4 linked regions of the Homo sapiens genome follow. The protein of the gene in region 2 interacts with the protein of the main gene of each other region in a pairwise test. Each region holds a gene or a part of one and is shown on either strand. Other genes may lie near its edges.

Region 1 (7,845 bases), on a different chromosome or scaffold from region 2:
CTCTCTTATTCAGATGAGGAAATTGAGGCACGGAGATATTAAGAGACTTGCGCAAGGTCACACTGCTGGGATTAAACCCCTGGCAGGCTGGCTTTAGCACTTGTGTTGTTGCAGGATCCCTCTGTCTATCTGACATATCACTGGATCTTTTGGCTTCGGGGTAAGATAAGAGGTAACCCCTCTTATCTCCCAGAGGGGTAAGAAAATCAGACAAGGTGGCTAGAACAATATTCTGAAGCTTCATTTGTAGACAAATCTGTAAAACAGAAAAGGCACACTACTCTGGCCACAGGTGTTATATTAGGAACAGCCCAGCCAGCTTGGCCCATGTCTGGGCCTTCCCCCACCCCAGCCCAAGGCACTGTCATTAAACCCTTCAGCCTGCCAGCACACTGTTTAGAAATGACTGGTTTTTAGGCGGGGTGCAGTGGTTCACGCCTGTAATCCCAGCACTCTGGGAGGCCAAGGTGGATGGATCACTTGAGGTCAGGAGTTCAAGACCAGCCTGGCCAACATGGTGAAACCCTGTCTCTACTAAAAATACAAAAATTAGCCAGGCGTGATGGCATGCTCCTGTAATCCCAGCTACTTGGGAGGCTGAGGCAGGAGAACAGCTTGAACCCAAGAGGCAGAGGTTGCAGTGAGCTGAGATTGTGCCACTGTACTCTAGCCTGGGTGACAGAGCTGACAGAGTGGAGGGACCCTACTTTGGCTAAACTGGAAAGATCATGTTTGATATCACAGCCCCTCAGTTATTGGGCAACCTCACCCATACAGAACACGGGGCGGAGGAGGGGAGCCAGCCCTGCTGTTTCTGGCTTTAGCTCACAGTAAGGGAGGAAGCAAAAGTGGTTTCTCAGGAGCCAAAGATGATTTCCCTAAGAGCTTTCCTTAAAGCTCATATACTACACTCCTAGGAGATGTCCCCTAGCTTTTACTCAGGTCCTATGAACTCTAATTTCACCCACAATTTTAATGAGCTTGGTCATGGGGTCTTTTAGCCTATAGATGTAGCAATTAGTGGCAGTCTGCACAGTACCTGATATACAGTTGGCGATGGATAAATGCTGATGGACCTGGACTACGAAAGGACGTTTCACAGGCAGCTAGCAGCCTGATTGCAAGGAAGGAGACAGAAACAGTCTGAAAAGCAGCTGTAGTGGCACAGAAGTAGTGGGGACACTCAGCATGGGAGCAGACACAGTCCTGTCCCTCAGTCGGCCTGTTTTTGCAATTTTGTCAGTGTGGCCACACAGTATTTATTTATAGCCTGATTTTAGCTGCAGCCGAGTGTTCAGATGCACGCTGCTGTAGGAGTGAGGCAGGGCGGACCAGCCACAGAGGGAGGGAAGGGATAATGTGATTTCTGTGATACACACAGATGATAAAGAGCATCACACCTTGGCAGGAAGTTTGTAAATGAGCCTCAGAGTGGGACCTGTCAGTGAGACAAGGTTGAATCTGAGAATACCAGCTGTCTGAGCGGAGAGGGCACTGGCCTAGCACTGAGTCTAAGGCGCTGGGAAGCCCAGAGAAGGAAGGGTCCTCCCCCTGCCCCCAGTTTGTCGTGGCTCCACTCCCAGCAGGTGGCCAAATTATTGCAAGAAATGTCTGTCTGTATCCTCTGCACAGGGCTGACAAGTGGGGTACTGGCTGAGGACGTGTTCATAGAATAAATGAATGGACAGTGAATGTCTCCATGGTCCATCTCCCTTCCTGAACCCATTTTTTACTTCATTTCACTTTTTTTTTTTTTTGAGAAAGAATCTTACTCTGTCACCCAGGCTGGAGGGCAGTGGCACAATCTCAGCTCACTGCAACCTCCGCCTCCTGGGGTCAGGTGATTCTCCTGTCTCAGCCTCCCGAGTAGCTGGGATTACAGACGTGCGCCGCCACGTCTGTCTAATTTTTGTATTTTTAGTACAGATGAGATTTCACCATGTTGGCCTGGCTGGTCTCGAACTCCTGACCTCAGATGATCCACCCGCCTCAGCCTTCCAAAGTGCTGGGATTACAGGCGTGAGCCGCCGCGCCCAGCACTACATTTCACTTTTGTTATATTCTGCAAATATTTGGTGAGTAGGGCTGTCTACTAGGTGGTCCACGCTGGACCCCTGAGCTTCTTCACCCTGCAACATCTAATCAGATGAATGAAACTGTCTTGACCTGAAGGAAGCCATAGTTCAGTGCCGGGGCTGGAGGAATAACTGGGTCAGGCAAGGAGTGCTCTGAGAGGAGCAGTATCTCAACTGTGCCATCCTCTCCCAGGTCCCCCATCCCCCGCAACCTGTATGTCTATCCAATGGCCTTTGCAAAGATGTCATTAGATATTGTTTTAAGAGGGAAAATCTAGTTCTGGACCAGATTCTATTGAGATCCACATCCTATTCCTTTTAGGGTAGTTAAAAGGAAAAGTAAGGACCTGGGGAGGCTGGGTCACATGCACTGCAGTGACTGTCACCCACCCTTTGGGTGGGAACCACCAAGGGGGTATGGGGACAATAGGCCTGAACTTTCCCCTTGACATGTGGGTGTATCTCTCCTTTGAGGCTGGGCTCTGGCTCTATCTAGAAACCCCTGTGCCACACTGGGAGGAGCTGAGCCTCCCCAAGCCCATTTAACAGGTGACAGCACCGCTGCCGAGTGGGGCAGTGACTCACCAGCTTCACACAGTGGGACCAGCTGGGCTGGTCTGCCCCTTCCCTATGTGGCACTCAGCCACTGGTGCCTTTTCCCTTCCCAGTTCTGAGATGCTGAGGTGCCCATTTATGAGGCTACAGAGAAGGGGACTGAGGGGCCCTACTCTGATCTGTCATAAAGCTGCCTGTCCCTACCCCCAGACCTGTCTACCATGGCCCAGGGGCATCAGGAGAGCCTGACATTTGCTGGGCACCTGTTCCATCCTGGGCATTTAAAGAGAGATATATATATATATATACACACACACACACACACACACACACATACACACACACACTTTCTAAAGAAACAAAATCAACTAATATAAGATCCTAAAAGGAAAGTGGGGAAATGGAGAAAAATAGGAAAAGAAGAAGCACCTTTAGTCTCATCACACAACTGCTAATATTATGCTGTGTTTGCATAAGATTGCCTTACATAGGTGCAAGCATATTGTGTACATAATTTTGTATTTTCCCTTTCTTTTACAAATTTTTTATTTTTGCAGAGATGAGGTCTCCCTGTGTTGCCCAGGCTGGTCTCAAACTCTTGGGCTCAAGCAATCCTCCTGCCTTGGCTTCCAGAGTGCTGGGATTACAGGCGTGAGCCACCATGCACGGCCCTCCCTCCTTTTTTTTTCTAGTATTTTAAATTTTATTTTAAATTGTAGCGAAATACACATAAAATGTACCATCTTAACCATTTTTGTGGTGTATGGTTCAGTAGCGCTAGGTTTGTTCACACTTTGCCACCCTCCCCTTTTTTTAGCGTAACTCACTCCATCGGGAACACCTGTGGGTGTGGACATGGGTTCCTCATTTTCAGCAACACCACTGTTCATGGCTGCACAGTTCTCTAGCTTGTGAATTTGGTGACCATGCTGTGATTTTTTTTGCCCAGTCCTCCACTGCTGAACATTTAGGTTACTGCCAATTATTTATTATTCTGGACAGTGACACCATGGGTAGATCTTTGACTATAAAGGTTTTTCACTTGGGGATTATTTCTTTGGGCAGAGGAGGCTAATGGCTATTTTCCAGGGAAGGAGGCATTTCTGGGTGAAAGAGTGGGGCCAGTTCTCCAGCCATGGGTACTAGCAGTCACTTTGGGATCCCCCATAGTCCTCTGGTTGGGCAGGAGCTTTTTCACACAGGAAGGAGGGACCCCAGAATGGCCTGGAAGGGTCAGGGCCTGTGGATGGGGCCCTGCTGGAAACCAGAGCCTGCACTGACTTTGTGGAAGGCCTTGCAGCCCAGCAAACTGCTGTGGCTTTGAGGGCCAAGGAGGCCAGTGGCTGAGGAGTGGCCCTGGTGCACTCAGAGCTTGCAGACAGTGCAGGAGGTGGGAGAGAGAGGCCCTGGCCATCCTGCCTTTGCTGCCACCAAGTACCTTCCCGGCACCTGCCTGGCTGCATCTGTCAGAAGCAGTGAGGACGGAGGCTCTCCCTTTCCTGATTGGGAAAGCTCTTTAAGACCTGGTGTTCCCTGTAAAAAGCAGAGAGCCTGGCAGTGCACCTGGTCGGCAACCCGTTGTGAAAAGTGGGGAAATAAGCATTTATACTGGCGCAGGCTTGTAGTATTAACAACAAAAATCTGTGGACGGATGCACAGGGAGCTAATTAAAGTGGTTGCCTGTTGGGAGAATGAGAGAAAGGAGATGGATGAGGGATGAGGCTGAGCGGCTGTGAACGTTTTCAGGATTGATGTTTTTATACTGTTTGATTTTTGAACCATATGAATGTATTAATTATTCAAAAATTAAATCAAACAATTAAAAATGAAAAAGAGGACATTTATTTCAAGTCCCATGAAGAATTTTTCCCTGAATCCCAGCTACTTACATCATCCCCTGAGGAGCAGCAATGCTGCCATTTGCTGAGTGCCTGTTCCATGCCAGGCATGCTGCCATTCAGTCCACATGCCCCCAAACGCATTGTCAGTGTCTTCCTGACTCTGTGATGGGACCTAAGGCACGGCAGGTCTAGGCCCAGACGAGGGTCACCTGTGCAGGGTAGAGCAGGGACTCCCACCTAGGTCTGTCGAACTCTATTGCCCTCTGCCCTGAATTCTAGAGAGTTTGTTCTTGCTTCTACTTTAATTTGTGTAGGATGAAAGGATGCTTCCCTACATGTTAACACTGGTGTCTATGGATTTGGAAGTAGGATTCTCTCCATCCCCCATCTAATTTTCTGCAAGTCAATACAGAGTACCTTTGTCATTAAAAAGAAAATATTTAAAAAGAAAACTAAGCAATTCCTGCTTTCAAGAATGAGTTGGTGTTTCTAGGCCAAATTTGTGGTTTGCTAGCATGCCCTTTTCCACATGCTCGGTGCATATTTTGTGGTACGTGGGCCTCTGGGGACCAAGAACTTCGTTCATCTGTGCCCATTCCACAGGACGTGGCCGGCTGCTCAGGTGTTAGAAGATTGCAGAGGTTTGTGGTCATGCTTGCTTTGCTTTTGCGATGCCTGCAGATGGTCACTGCCAGGATTTGCTGGCTGCAGGGTTCTGGGTCGATTTGGTGTTCTGAATTCAATTTTATTCTTGATAAAAAACAAGATCTGCTTCTTGATGACCCACTTTGTGCTCCAGTCCCCTGGAACCCACATGCTTTTCCTGGCTGCTCCTGACATCTACACAGAACTAGGGCAGCCCCTGGGATGGAGAAGGAGGGCCTTGCTTTGGGCTTTGAAGGGTGGGTGAGGATTTGAGACATGTCAGGAGGACAAACGGCACTCAAGGTGGGAGGTACGGCATGGGCAAAGGTGTGGAAGGGGGTTTGGAAGACAGTTTTCTGGCCCAGAGCATTGTGCAAGGTGACTGGTAGGAAGGGAAGGCACGAGCTGGATTGTGAAAGGTCTCTGCCCTAAGTGGTGGCAGAGATACTTTCTTCTGCCTCTCTGCACCCTCTCTGGTGGTGGCTGTTTCCTCTCATGCAAAAGAGGACAGAGGCTGCGGGCTGTGAGTGGGATGCCCTTCCTCCTCACCCAGAGCCTGGCTGACGCTGCAAACCACATGATGGAGGGAACTTTGGGTGGAAACCAAGACTGCCTCTGCTTCCAGCTAGAGAGCATGATGCCCTGGGCCCTGGGCTGCCCACACCAGGACTCTCCTCTGGGTTGGCTCTGGAAGGTTCCTCCCTCACAGACTCAGTCATGCTCCATCCTCCAGGCTTAGAAGGAAATCGGCTTCTTGGGAGGCCGAGGCGGGTGGATCATCTGAGGTCAGGGGTTCGAGACCAGCCTGGCCACCATGGTGAAACCCTGTCTCTACTAAAACTACAAAAAAATTAGCGGGGCATGGTGGCGCATGCCTGTAATCCCAGCTACTCAGGAGGCTGAGGCAGGAGAATCGCTTGAACCCAGGAGGTGGAGGTTGCAGTGAGCTGAGGTTTCACAATTGCACTCCAGCCTGGGCAAAAGAACGAAACTCCGTCTCAAAAAAAAAAAAAGAAGAAGAAGGAAGCGGGCTTCTTTGAAGCCTCACCCAACCCTCACCCACACTTGCTAGGTGGCCTTGGAGAATCATTTTCCCTTTCTGAACCTCAGTTTCCTCATCTGCAGGATGTCAGGGTCGTCATCACTTAAGATAAGGGCTTTGAGGTTGGGGCGGCTCAGGGCAGTGCTAAGGGACCACCTCCTGCTCACCACAGTGGAGTAGCAGACCAGGAACAGTTCCCAGGGGACCCAGATTTATAATTGGATATGCACCCATAGGGTGAGCCTTATACATAGATCTTGCTGTTTCAGAATGCCTCCTCCAATCATGTTCACCATTGCATGTTATACTCCACCATTAGAGAATCATTCCTTTGGTTTCAAGTAACAAGATGATCTATGTTATCTCACTTAATTCCAACAATAGTCCTGTGAGGTCAGTATTCTTATTCCTGTTTTACAGAGAGGAAACTGAGCCTCTTGGAAGGAATGTGGGCCTGGGGGATGCCACACAGATGGATCGGACTGGGCTGGGCCTGGATGCCACCTTCCCAGGTCTGGGTCAGAGAGCCCTTTGCAGTTAATGGGAGGGTGTGTTGGTTTGCTGAGGCCTGGCACACTGAGCAATGGGTGATGGAACAGGCAGGAGAGCGACAGCTCCTTCCACTGGTGTTGACAGGCCACCCACCATTGGGCAACAGGAAGTGCCAGCTGGAGCCCTGGAGACCAGCAGCCAGTGTGGGGATGTGGTGGCCAGATGGAACTCAGGGCTTCCCAGCTGTGGAAACAGGAACGGGAAACAGCCACACTGGGGAGGAAGTCAGGGGGTGATGGGCTGAGGCAAGAGCATGCCTGCGTGGCTAGAGAGAGTGACCAAGGTGGAGAGTAGTTGGAGATAAGGTAAGAAATAGAACAGTGGCCAGGCGTGGTGGCTCACACCTGTAATCCCAGCACTTTGGGAGGCTGAGGTGGGAAGATCACTTGAACCCAGGAGTTCAAGACCAGTCTGGGCAACATGGTGAAACCACTTCTTAAAAAAAAAAAAAAGTACAAAAATTAGCTGTACCTGGTGGTGCACACCTGTAGTCTCAGCTACTTGGGAAGCTGGAGTGGAAGGGTCACTTGAGCCCAGGAGTTGGAAACTGTAGTGACTGTATGATCGCACCACTGCACTCCAGCCTGGGCAACAGAGCAAGACTGTCTCAAAACAAACAAACAAACAAACAAAAAAAACAAAGAAAGAAAAGAGAAGCAGAGAGCCAGATCTTGTAGGACTGTCATTCTAAAAAATCCCAATGCCCAGGCCACACCCCAGGTCAATTACACCCCGATTTCTGAGGGTAGGACCTGGACATCAGTATTTTTCAAAGTTCCCCAGTGCCTCCATGTGGAACTTTAGCTTGAGAGGCATCAACATAGATAATTGTGGTAATTAATTACCATTGCTGGCCAAGCATGGTGGCTCATGCCTATAATCCCAGCAGTTTGGGAGGCCAAGGTGGGCAGATCACCTGAGGTCGGGAGTTCAAGACCAGCCTGGCCAACATGGTGAAACCCTGTCTCTACTAAAAATACAAAAAATGTAGCCAGGTATGGTGGTGCATGCCTGTAATCCCAGCTACTTGAGAGGCAGAGGCAGGAGAATTGCTTGAACCTGGGAGGCAGAGGTTGCAGTGAGCCAAGATTGTGCCACTGCACTCCAGCCTGGGCAACAAGAGCAAACACTCAAT
Region 2 (7,845 bases):
GTACCCGGGCCAGACAAAGTTCTACACCAAGGACAACTAAAGCTACCAGCTCCATTCCCTACAAACAGACACACGGCAGCTGCTCGCGGGGGCCCCTGGCCACCCCTCAGGGTTCACACGCACCGTGCTGGCCCCCCAGGCCACAAGTGACGGTGGCTTTGAAGCAAACATCATGTGCTTCGCAGACAAAACCCCTCCGCCAACCCAGACCTCGCTTTCCTTCTCTACTCCCCCACCCACCCGTGTCCCTTTCAGTCCAGACACCAGAGGAAGGATGTGTGAAAGGAGCCAGGTAGTCAGCCAAGCCCACCCACAGCCCCCAACCACAGCACCTACCTCCAATGACCTCCACGAACTCTGGGCCGGCCATCGCCAGGAAGGGCACCTGAGCCTCCGTGGCCACCGCCTTGGCCAGCAGCGTCTTCCCACAGCCGGGGGGGCCGAGCAGCAGTGCGCCCTTTGGGACCTTGGCGCCAAGCTGGAGGAAGCGTTCTGGGCTCTGGACGGCAGCAGACAATGCAACACTAACTACTTGGGGATTCCGTTTTTTTGTTTTTTAGAGGTAAGGTCTCTCTGGGTCACGCAGGCTGGAGTGCAGTGGGTGCCATGATAGCTCACTGCAGCCTCAAACTCCTGGGTTCAAGCCACCCTCTCACCTCAGCCTCTCGAGTAGCTGGGAATATACAGGCATGTGGCACCACGCCCAGCTACTTTTAAAAACTTCTTGCAGGCCAGGTGCGGTGGCTCACACCTGGAATTCCAACATTTTGGGAGGCTGAGGCAGGCGCGTAGCTTGAGATCAGGAGTTTGAGACCAGCCTGGCCAACATGGAAAAACCCCGTCTCTACTAAAAATACAAAAATTAGCCGTGCATGGTGGTGGGCGCCTGTGATCCCTGCTACTCGGGAGGCTGAGGCAGGAGAATCACTTGAACTGGGGAGGTGGAGGTTGTAGTGAGCCGAGATTGTGCCACTGCACTCCAGCCTGAGTGACAAAGTGAGACTCTGTCTCGAAAAAAAAAATTAATTAAATAAAAAAATGTTTTGCAGAGACAGGGTCTCACTGTTGCCCAGGCTGATCTCCTACTCCTGGGCTCAGTCACTCCCCTGCCTCAGCGCCCCGAGGTGCCAGGACTACAGGCGTGACCCACTGTACCAGGCCTGCAGAGGGAACACATGTCAGCCCCTCGAGGTGCCAGGACTACAGGTGCGACCCACCGTACCAGGCCCGCGGAGGAAACGTGTAAGTGACGCACGTGATAGGCAGCTCATGCACTGCCACCAACTGGCTAAGGTGTTTATGTGGTTCTGGAAAAAGCACAGAGCTTTGCAAGGGATGAAGGGCCCAGGACGGCTAACGGCACAGTAGGCATGGGTCTTGGCAGCCTCTGCTTGGCTGAACCATGTGCACGAGGCTTGTGCTGCTGGTTGAACAGGCACCAGCACCTGCTTGGTGTCCCCATGGGACATGGTAGAGGTCACCGCCAACCCACGACACGTCATCGATGGAATTCCAGGTCCCGCAGGAGCCCTTCTGGGAGAGGAGGACGGCCGGCCTCTGCTCACACCTCCCTCCCGGCCCACGCTGCTTTCACCTTCAGATAATCCACAAACTCGCGGACTTCCAGTTTGGCTTCGTGCATTCCTGCCACGTCTTTGAAGCTGACTCCTTTCCCCATCTTCCCATCCACAATGGTGAAACGAGCCATTTTAAGCTGATTCTGTGCAGAAAGAACAAAGTGCAAGGAGCTGGGCGAAGTCAGGAAATCAGCAGCACGATGCCAGCGCTCAGCCCACGCACCTGAGCCGCCCCAACCCCACGTCTCCATCCTAGGATCCCAAGGCTTCACTCATGTCAGGCTGACGAGGCTCACAGTCAGTCTTCAAGCACAGAAGGGAAATGTTTCGTCATTAATTAGTAAGAAACTTATCTAGCAATTTGCTTTAAAAAAAATTACTCAGCCAGGCATGGTGGCTCACGCCTGTAATCCTAGCACTTTGGGAGGCCGAGATGGGCGGATCACGAGGTCAAGAGATCGAGACCACCCTGGCTAACACGGTGAAACCTGTCTCTACCAAAAATACAAAAAAATTAGCTGGGTGTGGTGGCAGGCACCTGTAGTCACAGCTACTTGGAAGGCTGAAGCAGGAGAATCGCTTGAACCCAGGAGGCAGAGGTTGCAGTGAGCTGAGATCGCACCACTGCACTCCAGCCTGGGCAACAGAGCCAGACTCTGTCACACACACACACACACAAAAAAGAAAGGCCAGGTGCAGTGGCTCATGCCTATAATCCCAGCACTTTGGGAGGCTGAGGCGGGAGGATCACCTGAGGTCGGGAGTTCGAGACCAGCCTGAACAACATGGAGAAACCCCGTCTCTACCAAAAATACAAAATTAGCTGGACGTGGTGGCGCGTGCCTGTAATCCCAGCTACTCGGGAAGCTGAGGCAGGAGAATTGCTTGAATGCGGGAGGTGCAAGTTGCGGTGAGCTGAGATCGCACGGCTGCACTCCAGCCTGGGCAAGAAGGGCGAAACTCCGTCTCAAAAAAAAAGAAAAGAAAAACGCAGATTCAACTGCCCTGTAATCTCACAAGGCTCAGGCACCCCAGAGTTAGGGGTGAGAGGCCCTCAGGCAACATTGGTTACTACACGCCTTACAGCCGGACCATGGGAAAGGAAGGTGAGCTGCTGTCTAATTGTGGCTTCAGGCTACTCTCTGCAACAGGTTTTCCCTGTGTATTCATCGTATAGCTTATGGGAAAAGTATTCAGCAAACACAAACCAGAAAGAGTTCAGAGAGCTCTGATTTACAGAACTTACAAAAGCACTGAATCCACCTTCCCTTCCAGTCATCCCGGCCAGACGGAAAACATACCACAGGATGGCCAGGCCCACTGCCGTCATCCCCACAGAGTACAGGGCACTGCCGGAAGAAAGAGAGGCAGGCACAGGCTCAGACGGTGTCACGTGACAGACGCAGGCTTCCAAATCAGAACCACTGCTGGCAATGTTTCCAAGATGAGACGAGGAATCCCTACGTCTGGGACCGATGCGCAGATTAAAATGGTTGTGGAAATGGGTTCTCTCGTCTCATTCTCGCTGACTGTGCTTTTTCATGAAAGCTTCCCAAATGGTCAGACTGAGTGTGCAGATGCCGGAGATCTAGCCAGCCTTGTGACAATAACAACGTTCAGGTTTTTCTATTTTCAGTATATTTTGTTTTCAAATGTAAGCGATCAGCTTCAATCAGGCAGGCAAGATCAGCCTAAGAGTAAAAAGCAAATCTCAGGCCGGGCGCGGTGGCTCACGCCTGTAATCCTAGCACTTTGGGAGGCCGTGGCGGGTGAATCACAAGGTCAGGAGTTTGAGACCAGCCTGGCCAACATGGTAAAACCCCATATCTACTAAAAAAATACAAAAATTAGCTGGACATGGTGGCATGCGTCTGCAATCCCAGCTACTTGGGAGGCTGAGGCAGGAGAAATGCTTGAACCTAGGAGGTGAAGGCTGCAGTGAGTCAAGATCGTGCCACTGAACTCCAGCCTGAGCTACAGAGCAAGACTCCATCTCAAAAAGAAAAGAAAAATGTAAGAATAAACCCTGTGTCTACTAAAAATACAAAAAAACTTAGCTGGATGTGGTGGTGTGCATCTGTAGTCCCAGCTACTCAGGAGGCTGAGGTGGGAGAATCACTGATCCTGGGAGGTCGAGGCTGCAGTAAGCTGAGATTGCACCACTGCACTCCAGCCTGGGCGACAGAGTGAGACCCTGACTCCAAAAAAAAAAAAAAAAAAAAGCAAATCCCAGGACTTTTGCCCTCATCCTGAGGAGGGGCTGCCCTGGGCCTGCCCCAACCCTCCATCTTCTGTACATCATCAGCCTACAAAGACACGAGAATGGGCCTGCCCCAACCCTCCATCTTCTGTTCTGTACATCATCGGCCTACGAAGACATGAGAATGGGCCTGCCCCAAACCTCCATCTTCTTCTTTTTTTTTTTTTTTTGTTTGAGATGGAGTCTGGCTCTGTCACCCAGGCCAGACTGCAGTGGTGCTATCTTGGCTCACTGTAAGCTCCGCCTCCCGGGTTCACGCCATCCTCCTGCCTCAGCCTCCCGAGTAGCTGGGACTACAGGCACCCGCCACCGCACCCGGCTAATTTTTTTTGTATTTTTAGTAGAGACGGGGTTTCGTCGTGTTAGCCAGGATGGTCTCGACCTCCTGACCTCGTGATCTGCCCGCCTCGGCCTCCCAAAGTGCTGGAATTACAGGCGTGAGCCACCGCGCCCGGCCCAAACCTCCACCTTCTGTCCATCATCGGCCTACGAAGACACGAGAATGGGCCTGCCCCAACCCTCCATCTTCTGTACATCACTGGCCTACAAAGACATGAGACACACAGCCTCAGAGCAGTGATCTTCCAGGTGTTGCTGGGTTATAGAATTAAAGGTGCATCTTTTTTTTTTTTCTGTAGAGATGGGGTTCTCCATGCTGCCCAGACTGGTCTCGAACTTGTGGGCTCAAGAGATCCTCCCTGCCTCAGCCTTCCAAAGTGCTGGGATTACAGGCATAGCCACTGCACCCGGCTAGAGGTACATTTTGATCAAGGGAGTACTTGCCAGTCACTGGCATTCTACATCTTCAGAGATTACAAGTCAACAATAAACCTCTGTTTCAGTACCCGCTGGCCCCTCATTTGTCCTACTAAGGAACCTGTCAGGGTCCATGGTCCATACGTGCTGACAGCTCCCACCTGGTCTGTTTCCCTCTCAACACTGAAATGAGAATTTCACCTTCCTGTGTCTACCCTTTTCCCGTTCCATTTTCCTGTCTGTAGAAGAGAGCAAGCCCAGGACATTATCACGGTCCTCCTTGACTTTCTTTCTTACTGCTAGGCTGATCTTGCCTTGCTAACTGAAAGTGATCGCTTACTTTTGAAAACAAAATATACTGAAAATAGAAAAAGCTGAACGTTGTTATTGTCACAAGGCTGGCCAGATCACTAGGTATCTCCGGCATCTGCACACTCACTCTGACCATTTGGGAAGCTTTCATCAAAGAGCACAGTCAGTGAAAATTATACAAGAATGTGAATTCAGAAGCGCCACACAACTAAAGAAAGTGACTAAACAAACTCCAACGGACTTGCACACGGTTGGCCTCCACAGCCACAGGTTTCATCTCTGCAGGTTTAACCAAGCACAGAATGAATGTATCTGGGGAAAAACGTGCATCTATACTCAACATGCACAGACACATTTTTGTCATTATTCCCTAAAGTATAACAACGATTGAAATAGTATTTACAGGGTATTGGGTATTATTATCAACCTACAGATGATTTAAAGCATATCAGAGAATGTTCTTAGGTTACACACAAAGATTTCGGCATTTTACACCAGGGGCTGAGACTTCGCCATCCTACGTCGGGGGCTGAGACTTCGCCATCCTACGTCGGGGGCTGAGACTTCGCCATCCTACGTCGGGGGCTGAGACTTCGGCATCCTACGTCGGGGGCTGAGACTTCGGCATCCTACGTCGGGGGCTGAGACTTCGGCATCCTACGTCGGGGGCTGAGACTTCGCCATCCTACGTCGGGGGCTGAGACTTCGGCATCTTACGTCGGGGGCTGAGACTTCGGCATCTACATCAGGGGCTTAGACTTCAGCATCCTACACCAGGGGCTTAGGCATCCTCAGGTGCTGGTATCCTTGGGAAGTCCGAGAACCAGCCCCCATGGATACCCAGGGATAACTATATTTCCAAATCTCCTGGCATTGTATCATTCACTTCTATATTTATTTAACCCTCCCACTAAAAAGTCTAGTTAACTATAGGCAAAGACAGTTTGAGATTTTTGATTGCAATCTGTTTCTCAGATTACAAAGCCAAGTTAGGTTTAGTTCAAGCATCAACAAATACATCCAACATACTTTCCAAAGAATCCTGTTCGCTTGTAGGAAACTGGGATCCTGTCCTTGGCCTCGATATTCAGCTCATCTTCAGCTGCTCGAAGCTTCTCTTCAAACTTGTCAATATTTGCAACCTGCATTCGGTACATCAAGGCTAGCCGCTGGGGGGCAGAAAGGAGAGGGGACCATGAGAAACGCAGGGACAGACGAGCAACCCTACAGTCAACAGAGAGCCCGCCTGGAACTCATGGTAATGACAACCTCAGCATTGTGAAGAGGACACCATTCAGAAACTAGAGGTGATTCCTAACGTACGACGGTTCCACTTACGGTCTTTCCATTTTACAATGGTGTAAAAGCAATATGCACACTAAGCTCCTTGACCTACGATGGGGCTACCTCCCAGTGAGCCCCTGGGAAGCTGAAAATATCCTAATTCAAGGAACATCTGTACTTCCAAGTCTAAAAAATTTGTTTCCTCAACCACAATTTGAGAAATAAAATTTCAACAGATAGACTTTCTATTTTCCACTCATAGGAAAACTAAGAAATGGAGGGATGTCTGCAAGTTAGCTCACAGCCCCACGTCTGATGTGTGCCTCAGACTCAGCTACACCTGCAGACACAGCAGGAGCCCCCCAGAGGCCGGCGAGGCTGCAGCACGGGACTGAGGATGGCAAAATCAAGACTACGGCCAAAAACAGATGTTTTAGGAAACTGCGGCCACAGAGGGTTCATGTTTAACCACAAAACCTGAGACTGTTCATCCCTCACACCAGGACACCAACAGGTCCGTCTCCCTGGCACACGATTCTCCAAACGCAGCGTTTTCCTAAGTAAACTCCGCATGTTTAGCTCAGATTTCAGCATGACTGGACGGCAACACCCCAAAGGGAGGACACAGACGGACTTGCGGGACTCTCTTTGAGGTTAACTGGAAACTCCAGCAGAGGACAGGGATGAGGGGTGGGGATGGCACCTGCTGCTCCCTCACTCACACCCCAAACTGCTAAGACAGAATTCTGAGCATTTTCTCTTTAAGGCAGCTGTTTTATCAGGTGACTCGTCTAGAGCTGAGCATAGTGTTGTAGGTTAAAATAACCTTCCAGACTGAAATAATCAGGCATCCACCAGAGGATTTACGTGAATGAGCACCGTCTTCTGCACTTAGCCATGGTGTATTTTAAGAACAAGGTTTCCTGTTTTTAAAAATAGCAAGACAGCGCCAGGCGTGGTGGCTGACGCCTGTGATCTGGCACTTTGGAAGGCCAAGGTGTAAGGATCACTTGAGGCCAGGAGTTCAAGACCAGCCTGGGCAATATAGTGAGACCTCATCTCTCCAAAAAAACAAAAAATTTAAAAATTAGCCAAGTGTGGTGGTGCGCGCCTGCCATCCCAGCTACAGGGGAGGCTGAGGTGGGTAGATCACCTGAGCCCAGGAGATCAAGGCTGCAGTGAGCCGACATCACACACACCCCTGCATCTCAGCCTGGATGAGACAGAGGGAGACTCTGTCTCCAAAAAAAAAAAAAAAAAGCAAAAGAAAAGGAAAAAGCATTCTGAATCCTGAGTAACCCAGCAAAGGGGCAGAAGCTCTGGTGGAGGCCACGGTCATTTCCAGACCCGGGGGTGGGCCACACCAACCCCAGACCACTTTCCTAATCACTGGTCCACACATTACCCTGGGTTAAATTGCTCCAAGCACATGTTCTGACGCACTCTTGGAATCTAAAGTTACCAGATCTGGCTGGGCACGATGGCTCACGCCTGTAATCCCAGCACTTTGGGAGGTCAAGGTGGGCAGATCACCTGAGGTCAGGAGTTCGAGACCAGCCTTGCCCAACATGGAGAAACCCCATCTCTACTAGAACTACAAAAATTAGCCAGGCGTTGTGGTGCACGCCTGTAATCCCAGCTACCCGGGAGGCTGAG
Region 3 (7,845 bases), on a different chromosome or scaffold from region 2:
AATAAAAATGGTCTCGTCTATAATTCCAGCACTTTGGGAGGCCGAGGCGGGAGGATCGCTTGAACCCAGGAGTTTTAAGACCAGCCTGGGCAACACCACAAGACTCCATCTCAAATAAAAACAGGTAAAAAAAAAAAAAAGAAAAAGAAAAAGAAAGAAAGAAAGATAAATAAATTTTAAAAACGGTCTCAGGGTTCACTCTAACAATTCTTTTGCTTATTACTGGGAAAAGTCTTGGAGGTCCTAGAAAAAGAATTTGGCTTGGGAAGGTAAGAGGAGAGCAGTGGATGATCTGGTCTGGGAGTAGCTGACTAGATTCCAGCCCTTTGCTGATTTTCTTCCTTCTACTCAGATAAGCAAGACCCTGAGGGGCAGCAAGTACCAGTGGTTTCAGTCCCCTGTCACCAGGCATCCTGCAGCAGGCACAGGACGGAAGTACATGTCCTCACTCCCACCTCCCCAAACACATCCTGCCTGGCTGGGAGGGATACTGTATTTAAAAACAGATGACTCTTTGGAAACTCACACATTTTAAGTCCCGTAAATCACACATGCTGGGTAAAGTAATTACACTTTTGTAGCACTTCCCCTCTGAGCACAAAGGAAATTCTGCTACTTCTGTAATTAGATAGCACTTTCTGTGTACACTTTCTCCCAGGGGGGGCCTCCACTGTCTATCCTATAGGTGGGCGTAAGAGGAATTTTCACAAAACAGGATCCTGCGGATTCAAGAAAAAAAAAAATTGGGTAGTCTTTAGGATTTCTCTTAGAACAACATTGGCCACTGCCAGCCTATCTACCCTGGTGACATGAGAATCTGGGAAAATCAAGAGGAACGTCACAAAAAAATCAACTCATGAGAAATAAAAGTTAATTAAAAGTAAAGTTGTCCTATAACTTATTTGCAGAGGTTGGTGAGCCAGACCTCATTTTGGAGATTCTCAGATGTCTCCTACCTTTGCAAAACCCTAAAGGCTGACAGAATGGAACTGGCTAAGCATTCCCTTTGCATTTTAAATTTGTGTAACAATACTGTATTACAACCTGGAATGTGAATCCATCTTCTCGGTGTGACTGGCATTTATCACTGCCATTTCCTTTTTCTCTTTAGCATTTACACAATATGCACCGTCACCATAATAGGTGCAGTAGAGTTAAAACCTAAGAGAAATACAAATGCAAGTTGTTTTCTTTTTAAGTTCCTGGACTACTTTGAGCTGACACTTAGCTGGGCTGAAAAAGGCAGCAAACTTTTAAAGTATAAATTGAATAAAATGAAAATATGGCCAGGCATGGTGGCTCATGCCTGTAATCCCAGCACTTTGGCAGGCCGAGGCGGGTGGATCACCTGAGGTCAAGAGTTTGAGACCAACCTGACCAATATGGTGAAACCCCTGTCTCTACTAAAAATACAAAAATTAGCCAGGTGTGGTGGCGTGTGCCTGTAGTCCCAGCTACTTGGGAGGCTGAGGCAGCAGAATTGCTTGAACCCAGGCAGTGGAGGTTGCAGTGAGATGGCGCCACTGCACTCCAGGCTGAGTGACAGCGCAAGACTCCGTCTCAAAGAAAAAAAAAAAAGAAAATGAAAATATAACCCACAGATTAGATGTCTTTGGGCTGCTGGCCAAAGGCTCATCCTACTCTTCCTTTTCCCCAAAAAAGTCAAAAAAGATAAAAGCAACTTAGAAATTTTTTCCTGTAAAAAAACTCACGCCTCTCCAGATTTTATGGTAGCTTGATCTTTCCTTTTAGGTGCAGGGTTGGCAAATGGAGAGTTGGAGAAGTAAAAGCCTGGGAATTAATGGCAAGTTTGGGAGGTTTATAAACAGGTTCCTGAGTTTTGAGCAAAGCAAAAAAAAAAGCATATGAGAAAGACCATATATCAGATTTTTCTAAGCTCCCCCTCAGGCTTTCCAATGGCTAAGTATACCAAACCCTTTAAAAACAGGCAGATTATATGTAATACATTTTTATGTTCCTAAATTAATTTTTAAGTTTCCATTTTTCTTGATTATTTTCAATTCTCTCCCCTTCCCAAACACTTTTTAACATGACTCTAAATTTTCACTAAATTTTGTATCTCTTTCCTTGCTAACCCTCACAACGTTTCCTAGAAAGCAGGAATTCCATTTTCTGGGCACTCACTCCCAGTATGCACGCTTTCAATTATCAGCTCTATGTTCTTGAATTGTTCTGAAAATCGTATTTCAAGATCAGACCTCTCCTCTGCACCCCAGACTCAGTAACATCTTCATCTCCTAGGTACCTTCTTTTCTTACCCTTTCCACATCTCTATTTTCTATTCCTACAAATACAACCGTCACTTAGCTAGCCACCCGAAGGAGAAACCCAAAAGGCTGCTAGGCTGTCTCCTTGCCTTCTCTCCCGCACATCTGACAGTTATCTAGGCCCTGAACACCTGGCATCTCTGCCTCAGTTGCCACTGCCAGGCTGCTGCCTCACTTTGAGACCAGGACTCTTGCAGCAGAAACCTCACTGCAAGAATGGTTCTCAACAACTTTTCCAAAATTCGCCACATCCCCCTGCCCATTGGGACGTCCTAGATTGCTGCCTTCTGGGGCACATCCACCCTGGTGCCCCATCAGAGGACAAAGTCCAATTCCCTAATGCAGAGGCAGCTCTTCCACCCACTGTGGGCCAGTGCCCCCTCCCCAGTTTCATTCTTCCTTCCCCTTCTTCTCTCCTGCCATGCCTTGCTTGCTCTTCCCCAAAAGGGTCTTTTGAAGCCTCTGTGTGTTCATTCACAGAGCGATTTCCTTGCCTAGCCCATCTTTTCCCCACTGTCTGAACCCTTTTCTCATCAGTCAAAATCTTAACTGAGATTTAGCTCATACGTCATCTTTAAAGAACTGACTCTTTAAACTTCTTTAAAGCTTTCTGTGACACAGCTCCATCCCTTCCTTGCAGGTTTGGCTGTGCTCAACTCAACTACCTCTACTTTAACCTCGGGCGTGGTTATACCTGTTTGTTCATACAGGGGCATCACCATTAAACTGTGAGCAACTTTAAGACAGGAACTGCCTCTCTCAGATCTTGGCATCTCTAGAATCTGCACATGAAGACCCTGGCTCCATAGCTTTTCAGGGCTTCAGCCACTTCCCCATCAAAGCAGCACAATCATCATAATCCCTTCATCAGCTTGGCACATAGTAAATACTCAATAAAAGTTAGGAGATAATTATTTAATGAATAGATAAAAAGATTTCTGACAATTCTGCAGGCTAAAGATTTCAGTATTTCCTTTTTCCTGCTATCAGCAACACTGACAAGCCAAGCAGCTTTCTTCTGATACCACAGACATATCCCCTTTACTCAGCTTCATGTTTCAGATAATATCAAGGACCTCCCACCTCCACCGCCAAACATAGAAAATATAGTGCAATAAAATTGTTTACAATATTCTCCTGGTACACTTTAGGGATGTGAGTGTGAGGAGTTATCCCCATATGACAAATAAGCTCATCCCCACCAGGGGCATGGAACTGACTTGTTCATACCAACATAGCATCCATTTTAAATACCTGGTCCCAGATGGCCTCAAGCCCACTGAGCTATGCAGCCACTTCTGCACCAGCTTTTAAGGTTCATTCTCCTCATTCCTTCCTAAGTTTTTTTCTTTGACCAAAGCAAGCACTGTTCAAGAGGAACATTTGCATTCCCTTTCCCCTACCCCCAGGCAGACACTAAGGTGCCAAATGAAACTGAACACAAACATTCCAAAGTGGCTGTCACACAGAGCAGGCTTGTTTGGGAACACAGGGAGTCCATGCTCTTCCACCTAACCAAGGCTTCTGGAAGCCCTCGTCCAAAAGGTCAAATGGAATTCCACAGCAGAAACCAAATTCTAATGGTGAAAACCCAAATGCACCTTGGGACAAGCAGTCCCACACTGACAGTGGCTATCTGATGGACCAGGCAGGCTCACCTGTGCTCGCAAATGGAGGTTCCTAATGACAAAGGGATGGAAGTAATTTTCCAGCAGTGGCTATTTGATGGACCAGGCAGGCTCACCTGTGCTCGCAAATGGAGGTTCCTAATGACAAAGGGATGGAAGTAATTTTCCAGCCGATCCATCCACACCTTTTCTAATTCCCCAGTGCAGAGCACAGAAGGGATCCTCAATATTAAACGAGTGGCTGCTTCTTATTACCTGTACAAACTCATAATCACCAACCTCACCAATAAGGCTATTTCATATATATTTACAAAGAATTATATACGTGTATATATGTAAGTGTGGATGTGTGCAGAGGAGATTTACCTGGTGCTGGGGTAGGTGTTGAACATTGGGAATACTGTAAAATGGCATAGACCCATACAAAATAAATAGCTGAAAAAAATAATAACCAGGAGTTAAATGGACATAACAGAAAGTAACTTTTACTGAAATTCTAATGAAAAATCATCTCTATGGGATGGGACATTCAGGTGAGGGGGATCTTGCAAAAATGTAGGCTGAAAAACTTGAATCCTGGCTTAAAAGCAGCTCAGACTAGATCAAGAGAACAGAAGAGGAAGACCTAGGCTTCCTCTTAGCAAAGGGATCACAGTATACAGGTAGGTGAGGGCAATCCCGAACGCCATGTGCGCACTTGACTTTGTGGAGTACCAAGTAGCACTGAAGGATTCGGGGCATTGGAGGGCCCAGCAGTATGGTGTAAGGATGGACTCCAGAAGAGCATCAGAACAGGAGAGCAGCTGAAGATCACTAACACAATCAAGATAAGGGAATGAGTAAGAGAAATACTAATAGTACTAAGAAAGACTATGTCTGAGGAACAAGGCAGACCTGATTCTCACCGCTAGGCTTGTGAGCAAAACTAAATGTGACCAACCTCGGTTTTGTGAATATCACGATTCAAGGAAACCCTCAAAGCAAAAAGACATTTAATTCTTTTTGTTCACATGGTCATTTTCGAAAACTTAAACACCGAAAGGCATCAGAAAGTAAATAGCAATGATCTGTAATCCACCAATTAGATACAATTAATGTTTGGTTTTATGAATGAATATACATTTATTTGAGAACTGGCATCACATAGCATAAAACTTTAAAATCAGTTCTTTTCATTTAATATTACAACATGAGAATAAAAATATAGTCTTCAGAATGTCTGGAGCCACTGAAGCTCAAAGAGGTAAGGACAGGTTCTCCTCTCCAGCCTTTAGAGAGCACGGTGGCCCTGCCAACACCTTGACTTCAGGTTTCTAACCTCCAGAACACAGAGAATAGTATATAACCACATATGTATAATACATAATAAATATGAATTTATATATAATACATATTTTATAATCCATGTATTTTTCTCTTTAAAAACGGAGCCTTTAGTGGTTGCACAATATTCCCCTTCCAGAATTATACAATGATTTAGTTAGCAGTTTCCCATGTTAGATAGAGTGCCTCTGAATTGTCACTGTCATAAGTCACTGCAAAAATCATTCCTATATATAAATCTTTATGATACCGTTTTCTTAGGGTAAATTTCTAAAAATAAAGGTACTAAATCAAAGGGCCTGAACACATTTTGATAGTGTCACTCCTTTCTGAAAAGCTACACTAATTTACATCACCACTGCTCTGCACAAAAGTACCCACTTTATTGCCTTGTCACCAGCACTGAACACTTTTATCCTTAAAGCAAAAATTAACATGAACCTACGAAAATCATGTGAAACCATCTCCAGAAGAGAACTTCCACCCCTTCCAAACTACCCATCTGAAAACTAATGCCACTGGGAATGAAGAAGACTGCAGATGCACACAAGGGTTTATCAGGGAAATGTTTAAACCGCTACTGGAAAAATAACTCAAAAGTGCATGCCATATTGACAGGGGTCATGGAGCATCAGTTGTCACCAAATCCTATTCTACAACTGAAATATATGTTTATTGCATTGGATTGAACTTGGAATAACAGAGATCCCCAATCTTGGTTAAATTGTATAAAACCATTCTGTACTTTCCTGAAGTCACAATGTAGATTGACTTTAATGCTCAATGAAAATTTGAGGTTGCCACATCAAACTGACATTACCCTCTCTGCAGCAATTTTAAGAAATAATTTTCTTTACAACCCCAATATTTTGGCAAAATTAGCACTTTAAAAGAAGGAATGCAAAGTAAAGGTTTGTATTAACCTCAGAAGAACTGACTGTATGATTTCTGCACATCTTTTTGATCAATATTCCAACACTTCCACGTTTTTTGCTTTTTTAGTTTTATTATAAGTACAAGTCAATTCAAAGCAATTTAAGGAGAAATTAACACCAGTGCTTCAATATAATAAAAGGCCTTTTAAAGATGTTTTACAATCAGCCTGAAAAGTACTCAATGACATGGATAAAAGTAGAAATAAAAACCAAATCACATATTTAATCTAAATTTCTATTTTGAAAATTCAGTGACCAACAAATAAGTTACAAGCTATAAGTTAGCTTTATAGCTATAGCTATAAGTTATAAGTTAGCTTATAGCTATAGCTATAAGTTATAAGTTAGCTTATAGCTATAGCTATAAGTTATAAGTTAGCTTATAGCTATAGCTATAAGTTATAAGTTAGCTTATAGCTATAGCTATAAGTTATAAGTTAGCTTATAGCTATAGCTATAAGTTATAAGTTAGCTTATAGCTATAGCTATAAGTTATAAGTTAGCTTATAGCTATAGCTATAAGTTATAAGCTATAAGACAGAAAAGGTCTTGATATATTTGAAAATACTTTAAACTCATCAATTATAACTGATTAGGTAAGACAAATAATTATGGATCTATTATATATCAATTTTTATAAAGTTTGATTGCACAATTAGAGAAATTCTAGGAATCATTTTATCAATTGTAAAATATAAGAAATGACATGATACTCTAAACATATATAAACAAACCTTAAAAATCTCAGTGAGATTTTGACAACTGGTTAGTCTTTACAGGACAACTTGCTTAGGGAACACACATGTATAATACATTGTACGTGTATTACACATGTATTTAATGTAATAATACATTAAAAATCGGAAAGTTAAATGTATCATCTCTCTTACACAACTGGCTAGCCAAATCCTAAATTATTTTTCCTCAAAGTTTTCAATGCTATCCAAAGTAGAAGTATTAATACATGTTCTGCCAAAGTTCTCAAAAACTTCCAACCCTAAAAAGCTGCAAAAATACTCCTAGATCCTGAACTGTTCATTCTACACAATTAGAACCAAAGAGGCATTTCAGCACAATTATTTCAGGGTAAGCATTAGAAACTCTCAAAAGAAGCTAAAATACACTGATTGATAGAAGGAATTCGTTTCGAAACTAGAAACACAGAAAAAAACAAACTTGGGTTCTACAATGTGGAGAAAGCCCAAACCACCCTCATGATCTGTGAAATAAACTATTTTCCCTTAATGATGATTGGACTCATTTTTCCATGTCAGTTCAATGGCTACCAGAAATTACAACGAAACACATTTTTCCTCTCGTCATTACGTGTATATATCTATGTTGTATGTGTGTGTTCTGTTTACTGGAGTCCACCGCCAAGGTTTTTAAATGTGCTTAAGAGCAAGTTGCTGATACAATGGGTGGGCAGGGAAAGGGTCAGTGCAGTGGTTTTGTGTAATGCCGGGCACATTAATGGCACTCACCTAATACTCTATTTATTTTACCTGTGGCTTTCAGGGTTAGAAAGAAAAAAACAAAAAAGAGGTTAAGAGTTTTTCAAGAACAAAATATAAACCAAAAATAGGAAATTAAGGCAAAATTACCTGGATCATTCAGGCCACCTTAGTTTCTTTTCCTCAATTTCTGACATTATAAACCCCCCTCTCTTCA
Region 4 (7,845 bases), on a different chromosome or scaffold from region 2:
ATATGTTTTGAGTGCCCAGTATGTGACAGTAACTATATTTGAAGAGTTTACATTTAAATGAGCAATAATTTACATAAGACATTGAAGAGGACAGCATGTTTATGGATAGTTGAATGAAACAAATACCTAGATCAGGAGATGGACATGCTGGAGAGGTTAAAGGCAAAATAAATCATTTTCATAGTACAATGATCTGGCTTGCATCAGTTAAATTTAATATTTACAGAAGACCATGGTGGATAAGCTTTTTGATGTGCTGCTGGATTCCATTTGCCAGTATTTTACTGAGGATTTTTGCATCGATGTTCATCAGGGATATTGGTCTAAAATTCTCTTTTTTTGTTGTGTCTCTGCCAGGCTTTGGTATCAGGATGATGCTGGCCTCATAAAATGAGTTAGGAAGGATTCCCTCTTTTTCTACTGACTGGAATAGTTTCAGAAGGAATGGTACCAGCTCCTCCTTGTACCTCTGGTAAAATTCGGCTGTGAATCTGTCTGGTCCTGGACTGTTTTTGGGATGCAAGACTGGTTCAACATAAGCAAATCAATAAACATAACCCAGCATATAAACAGAACCAACGACAAAAACCACATGATTATCTCAATAGTTGCAGAAAAGGCCTGTGACAAAATTCAACAACACTTTACGCTAAAAACTCTCAATAAATTAGGTATTGATGGGATATATCTCAAAATAATAAGACCTGTCTATGACAAAACCACAGCCAATATCATACTGAATGGGCAAAAACTGGAAGTATTCCCTTTGAAAACTGGCACAAGACAGGGATGCCCTCTCTCACCACTCCTATTCAACATAGTGTTGGAAGTTCTGGCCAGGGCAGTCAGGAAGGAGAAGGAAATAAAGGGTATTCAATCATGAAAAAAGGAAGTCAAATTGTCCCTGTTTGCAGATGACATGATTGTATATCTAGAAAACCCCATTGTCTCAGTCCAAAATCTCCTTAAGCTAATAAGCAACTTCAGCAAAGTCTCAAGATACAAAATCAATGTGCAAAAATCACAAGCATTCGTATACACCAATAACAGACAAACAGAGAGCCAAATCATGAGTGAACTCCCATTCACAATTGCTTCAAAGAGAATAAAATACCTAGGAATCCAACTTACAAGGGATGTGAAGGACCTCTTCAAGGAGAACTACAAACCACTGCTCAATGAAATAAAAGAGGATACAAACAAATGGAAGAACATTCCATGCTCATGGGTAGGAAGACTCAATATCATGAAAATGGCCATACTGTCCAAGGTAATTTATAGATTCAATGCCATCCCCATCAAGCTACCAATGACTTTATTCACAGAATTGGAAAAAACTACTTTAAAGTTCATATGGAACCAAAAAAGAGCCTGCATTGCCAAGTCAATCCTAAGCCAAAAGAACAAAGCTGGATGCATCATGCTACCTGACTTCAAACTATACTACAAGGCTACAGTAACCAAAACAGCATGGTACTGGTACCAAAACAGAGATACAGACCAATGGAACAGAACAGAGTCCTAAGAAATAATGCCACATATCTACAACTATCTGATCTTTGACAAACCTGAGAAAAACAAGCAATGGGGAAAGGATTCCCTATTTAATAAATGGTGCTGGGAAAACTCGCTAGCCATATGTAGAAAGCTGAAACTGGATCCCTTCCTTACACCTTATACAAAAATTAATTCGAGATGGATTAAAGACTTAAATGTTAGACCTAATACCATAAAAACCCTAGAAGAAAACCTAGGCATTACCATTCAGGACATAGGCATGGGCAAGGACTTCATGTCTAAAACACCAAAAGCAATGGCAACAAAAGCCAAAATTGACAAATGGGACCTAATTAAACTAAAGAGCTTCTGCACAGCAAAAGAAACTACCATCAGAGTGAACAGGCAACTGACAGAATGGGAGAAAATTTTCACAACCTACTCATCTGACTAAGGGCTAATATCCAGAATCTACAATGAACTCCAACAAATTTACAAGAAAAAAACAACCCCATCAACAAGTGGGCAAAGGATATGAACAGACACTTCTCAAAAGAAGACATTTATGCAGCCAAAAGACACATGAAAAAATGCTCATCATCATTGGCCATCAAGGAAACGCAAATCAAAACCACAATGAGATACCATCTCACACCAGTTAGAATGGCAATCATTAAAAAGTCAGGAAACAACAGGTGCTGGAGAGGATGTGGAGAAGTAGGAACACTTTTACACTGTTGGTGCGACTGTAAACTAGTTCAACCATTGTGGAAGTTGGTGTGGCCATTCCTCAGGGATCTAGAACTAGAAATACCATTTGACCCAGCCATCCCATTACTGGGTATATACCCAAAGGGTTATAAAGTATGCTGCTATAAAGACACATGCACACGTATGTTTATTGCGACACTATTCACAATAGCAAAGACTTGGAACCAACCCAAATGTCCAACAATGATAGACTGGATTAAGAAAACGTGGCACATATACACCATGGAATACTATGCAGCCATAAAAAATGATGAGTTCATGTCCTTTGTAGGGACATGGATGAAGCTGGAAACCATCATTCTCAGCAAACTATCGCAAAGACAAAAAACCAAACACCGCATGTTCTCACTCATAGGTGGGAATTGAACAATGGGAACACATGGACACAGGAAGGGGAACATCACACACTGGGGCCTGTTGTGGGGTGAGGGGAGCGGGGAGGGATAGCATTAGGAGATATACCTAATGTAAATGATGAGTTAATGGGTGCAGCACACCAACATGGCATATGTAAACATATGTAACAAACCTGCACGTTGTGCACATGTACCCTAAAACTTAAAGTATAATAATAAAAAAAAAAACATTTACAGAAGACTTCCTATTGTTACACTATTAGTAAATTTTCCCTTTTTACATATTTCACAATCTAGTCGGAGAAATGGACACAAGGACCACAATGTAATTAGTGGAATACTGACAATCAGAACTAAAGGTTAAAAGATGTTTAGATACATAAGATGACCAAAAGATACAGTAGATAGGAAGGGAGGGGGATGCTTGGAAACACTGCATTTTGTCTATTCATTGTATATTTTTTTGAATTTTTTATGCCAATCCACATCTTTAATATGGTGAAAGAAAGAGTCAGGATATATAAATGAAAGACCAGCCACACGGTCTTACAATACTCCCAAAGTTTATAATATAATCATATTATATTTGTTAAATATTTCTGAGTTTTATGCTAATCTTTGTCAAGTTCCAGAAATCTCTGAATACATGGCAATTCACCTTTTGTTTATAATTATTTCTCATTTGAAATCTGATCAAACTTCCTAAGGATAAGTTTGGTTCTTAAAATACAAGCTCTTTAACTAGCACTAACAGTGATGACACCTGTAAAATGAAACCTTTTCTCAAAATGCTCTCATTTAAATGCACTGCTTAAATTCTGTTGTAAATGACATTCGTTTCTGCAACAAACATTACCTGCTATATTCACGGTATATGAACAGTTTGAGACGTAGCTTGTTAACTAATCAATTTAACTCATCCTTACAACTTATTTCTTAAGAGTACTTACATATTCTTCATAAGCTTCATGGGCTGGAGGAGGAGGTGCCCTGTATCCTGGCACTGTTGGTGCCCCCCGGGCTCGAGGGGTAGGGACACCTCTTGCTACAGGTGGCACTGGAAGCGCTCCACGGGTTACAGTGCTTCCCCGAGGGGTGAGAACACCTCGTCCAGGTGGTGGGGGAGGAGGAATGGCACCCCCACGGCCCCTAAGAGAAACAAGTCATGTATAGATGAGAAACAGGTGATGAGAGAAAAGGGCCTATCACAGAAAAAGTTTTCATCTCACAGCCTCCATACAATGAAATAAATACAAATTTCTCTCTCTCTCTCTGTGTGTGTGTGTGTGTATGCATTTAATAGAAATTATATAAGATATAAAGTGTGTTGATATCTATAGAAGACAATAATTGTAAACACTGACTATGATTAGTTCTTATAAAAACCATGTAAAATACTTTGTTATTGTCTTTTATATAACTAAAAACCCAAAGCCAGAAAAAAAAAAAAAACCCAAACAAAAACCCACTCTGAATATAACCCCATTAAATTCCAAATTCTCGAAGAAGACACAAATCAGAGCATCGTCTGATATATGACTCACTGGACCATCTCTGAAACTGAGCGGTTTCAGATGTCTGCATCTCCTTTATGCTGGGGATTACAGATAGTGATGGACAATGCTGTCATTTACCAAAAAAAAAGGTGGCTGCACTTAAATAAAATGTGGGAATCTAACCATAGTGATATCATTCTGTTTACTATAGCTGCTTAAGTTTGAGATTACTTGAAATCACAACTCTTTGTCACTGATTTATCATCATGCCTGTAACCCCCTGAACTGGTGCAGTCCCTGACAGAATATATTTTCTTAACCATAACTATGGTGTTAGAGGAATACTTTAGTATCTGTAATAAAAATAACAGACTGAATACTCTGTATTGCAGTTCTTGATACAAAATTGACTTGCACTAAAAGTGTAAGATCAAATGGTTGTGGCCAATTTTTATGGCATTTTGAAGCCTTTAGAATGGTTGAGTGTTTGTCTGAAGTCTTTGGGCAAAAGAACAGTTATTTCACTTTTTATTTTGTCTGAAAGGTTGGCCTCTAGATAGCACTGCTTTCAGTGGGAACACTAAAGCTTTGGGGAAAAAAATGATGATCATTGAGATGTCAACAATCACAGTATTTGGCTGTAGGCACATATGGGGACATAGGTTATGCTGTCTGCTATGAATAGCAGTCAGATGGCTCTTTCTTGCTTAAAATAAAAGTGAGCATTTATAAGTGAAGGGTACGAATGCTGGCAAAACCTTTAAAATTTTTAAATAGATTACAGAGCTGATGAATAGAGAAATGATGAGAGAATTTATTGTGAGTCTAATGTATAAAGAATACTCTCCTAGATTGGGAGAAGGTGAAACACAAAGACCCAGAGGCCCAGTGCTGGCTGCAAGTACAACATGGCTAAGAATACAGTATTCTGTATTACCATGATAATACATAAAGGGATGTAAAAACCAATTTTGCCTTCACTGCTCCTCCAAGCACATTTCTGTTTCCTCATAAGCAAGATGAGCATATGTCCAGGTTTTATAACTGTTGTCCTAGCTTCCTGTTCAGTTTAGCATTTTAACACTCTCAAAAATATCCATGTGTGGGCAATAAATTATATGGTCACCCTACTCTATTCACGAGCCTTCGCTATACCCTTGAATAGTCATGGGTAAGTATTATAACTACCTAGGCTTAAGATAGATATTTTTTTTTCTAATGAGTAAAATGCAGATTTCTAAATTTATAGTACTTCCTTCTGCTCTAATATTATATGATGCTCATATCAAATCTAATTTTCCATTTTCTTCCTTCATCAACTGACTACCAGACACAGCCCTAGCAAACCTGCCTCCTGAACCTGACTCATTACCTCTTATCCACTATGTTCTTTCCCTGGAATATTAACCTCATTGTTCTCTCCTCCAATTTAATTCAAATCACTTTTTTTAGGATACTGCCCCTGGCTAAAACCACACCACAGTATCCTGTCGTTTATTTGTCTGACTTGCTGAAAGAATATTTTCTGTTTAATTCTTTACTTCCTCTACATTCCTGAACTGAATGTTATCAGTCTAGTTCTTGCTTTCACCCCTCTGTTGAAAATGCTCTTGGCTGAGATCACCAGTAGCCTACTGATTTCCAAATCCACTAGATTTCTTTACAGTCTCCATGCCACAGCACCTTTCTACTATTTTTAAGATTGTGGACTATTATCTGGAAAATGTTTCTTTGGACTTTTATGACTCTGCTTTTCTCTACTTTTCCTCATTCCTCCTTATTCGTTATCCTCCTTCACTGGCTTGTATTCCTGGACCCACTTTGGAATCTGGATGTCCCCAGTTTCTATCCTCGATCTCATGGTTGCACCCTGCAATCCCTACCTCTGATGATGGCTATAATCTGTTTTCTTCCTAACATAATGCCATATCTTGGCTTGTGTTCCTTATATCAGAAGTTTCTTAACTTGCCTGCATGTTAAAGTTACTTGAGGATCTTTTGAAAATTCCAAATTCCAGGCCATACCCTAGGCCAATTAAACCACAATCTCTGGAGACAGGGAGCTCCCAGTGATTCCAAAATACAGGCCAATTTGGGAACCACTGCCTTAAATGAATACTCCAATTTAAGCATCTTGACAAGCTTGTCATGTGGGCAGTTCTAAGTTTTTTAAAAATACATTGAGATATTAAGGCATGGAGAGAACAAGTCACCTGCCCAAGGTCACACCAGCAATCCACAGAGCTCAGATTATTTACAAGAATAATTATATTCTTCATTTAATTTGATCCTTCACCTACTCTTAGTTAATGATATCATCAATTTCTCACCAGGCTAGACACCAAAAATTTATCTTTCTCTTGGGGAACTCTTCTTCTCCAACGTTTAATTGGCATTAATTCATATAAATGTTAATCTCTAATCTGGCCCTATCCCTGTCTATTCCAAATGCTGCTCATTTTTATCTGCCTTGGATGATGGAATTGTTTTCTCATTGGCTCCCCTGCCATAAGACGGTTTCTCTGTCTCTGTCTCTCTCTCTCTCTCTCTCTCTCAATCACTGTAACTCTTCTGCATCAACCACAGTGATAATTGAGTAGTCTTTCGCATAAACAAATATGACTACTCTCCTCTTTAACAAACTCTATTAGTTCTATGTATTCGTTCTCAACGTGGTAAACAAAAGCCTTCAAAATTTACCCCGATGTTTCGTTTTTCAGTGACTGCACTCACTGCAACATATAGTGGTGATGTGTGTTAGAGATGTCATATATTTTCATTCATCAATTATGCAAAATAAATTATTATTACAATATATAGATGTAATGCTTTGTTCTCTGGTATACATTATTATTGGAAAATTAGAGTTATCATAGATAGGATTATTGAAATGTAAATTGTTTTAATTAAATACACTTTCAACAAATTATAGAGCTTAAAATATTCTAGACATCATCTTTTTGAATATAAGTGTAATTAAATAACTTCATAAAGTAATAATTTCATAACAATTCAAATTAGGAATTGTTAACTCATGTTATGCAAAGTTCTCTTATTAATAAGATTTTCTATTTTGTAAAGCTATTTTCTTTTTTTTTGTGGGCATTTGGTATGACCAATCTTTAATTTTCAAGCAATAACAAATATATAGTATCGAGCACTTACTAAATATCCGATACAGTTGTAAATGTCTTTACATGTAATACATTTAATGTTTTATTGTAAGTCTCTAAGTGATTATTGTATTAATTAAATTGTAACATATAATTACATAACATATCCAAGGTCAACATTTTAACTTATTGTTTATCTCATTCATTATGAGATACACAATTATTTTATCTTAACACTATGAGAGAAAACACTGAGTTAAATTATGACTATGCCATGTATGTCAAGAAGACAATCACTTTGAGATGTCAAAATGTGAAAAACATGAATCCTTAAATTGATGAAATATAATAACATCTAGTAAGTGGGAGAACTAGGATTTAGAACCCAGGCATTCTCTTTCTAGAGCTTTTCTGCTTATTCATTCTACTATACTTTCATGCACAAAAGGGTTCAATCGATAAGAATTTACTTATTAAAAAATGCACAAGGTCAACACATATACCAACTATCATACTTACTTAATACTTTTAAGGGAGGTATTTAGGAGCAATAGGGAGGTGAAAAAATTGAGATGAAATGGAATTATGTGAAACAATATCTAACTCTTTTCT

Evidence for each region.
Region 1: the proteins of SPG7 (region 2) and PSTPIP1 interact in binary tests that used the Homo sapiens proteins (3 or more experiments, as listed by UniProt).
Region 3: the proteins of SPG7 (region 2) and RBPMS interact in binary tests that used the Homo sapiens proteins (3 or more experiments, as listed by UniProt).
Region 4: the proteins of SPG7 (region 2) and KHDRBS2 interact in binary tests that used the Homo sapiens proteins (3 or more experiments, as listed by UniProt).

Annotation. Positions count from the first base shown.
Region 1 is NC_000015.10:76,997,540-77,005,384, forward strand, and holds part of PSTPIP1 (proline-serine-threonine phosphatase-interacting protein 1), read left to right. Parts: intron 1-7,845. UniProt on the Homo sapiens protein: Involved in regulation of the actin cytoskeleton. May regulate WAS actin-bundling activity. Bridges the interaction between ABL1 and PTPN18 leading to ABL1 dephosphorylation.
Region 2 is NC_000016.10:89,524,558-89,532,402, reverse strand, and holds part of SPG7 (mitochondrial inner membrane m-AAA protease component paraplegin isoform 1 precursor), read right to left. Parts: intron 6,075-7,845; coding exon 5,935-6,074; intron 2,927-5,934; coding exon 2,824-2,926; intron 1,721-2,823; coding exon 1,595-1,720; intron 500-1,594; coding exon 337-499; intron 1-336. UniProt on the Homo sapiens protein: Catalytic component of the m-AAA protease, a protease that plays a key role in proteostasis of inner mitochondrial membrane proteins, and which is essential for axonal and neuron development.
Region 3 is NC_000008.11:30,387,258-30,395,102, reverse strand, and holds part of RBPMS (RNA-binding protein with multiple splicing), read right to left. Parts: intron 1-7,845.
Region 4 is NC_000006.12:61,891,061-61,898,905, forward strand, and holds part of KHDRBS2 (KH domain-containing, RNA-binding, signal transduction-associated protein 2), read right to left. Parts: intron 3,774-7,845; coding exon 3,575-3,773; intron 1-3,574. UniProt on the Homo sapiens protein: RNA-binding protein that plays a role in the regulation of alternative splicing and influences mRNA splice site selection and exon inclusion. Binds both poly(A) and poly(U) homopolymers. Phosphorylation by PTK6 inhibits its RNA-binding ability.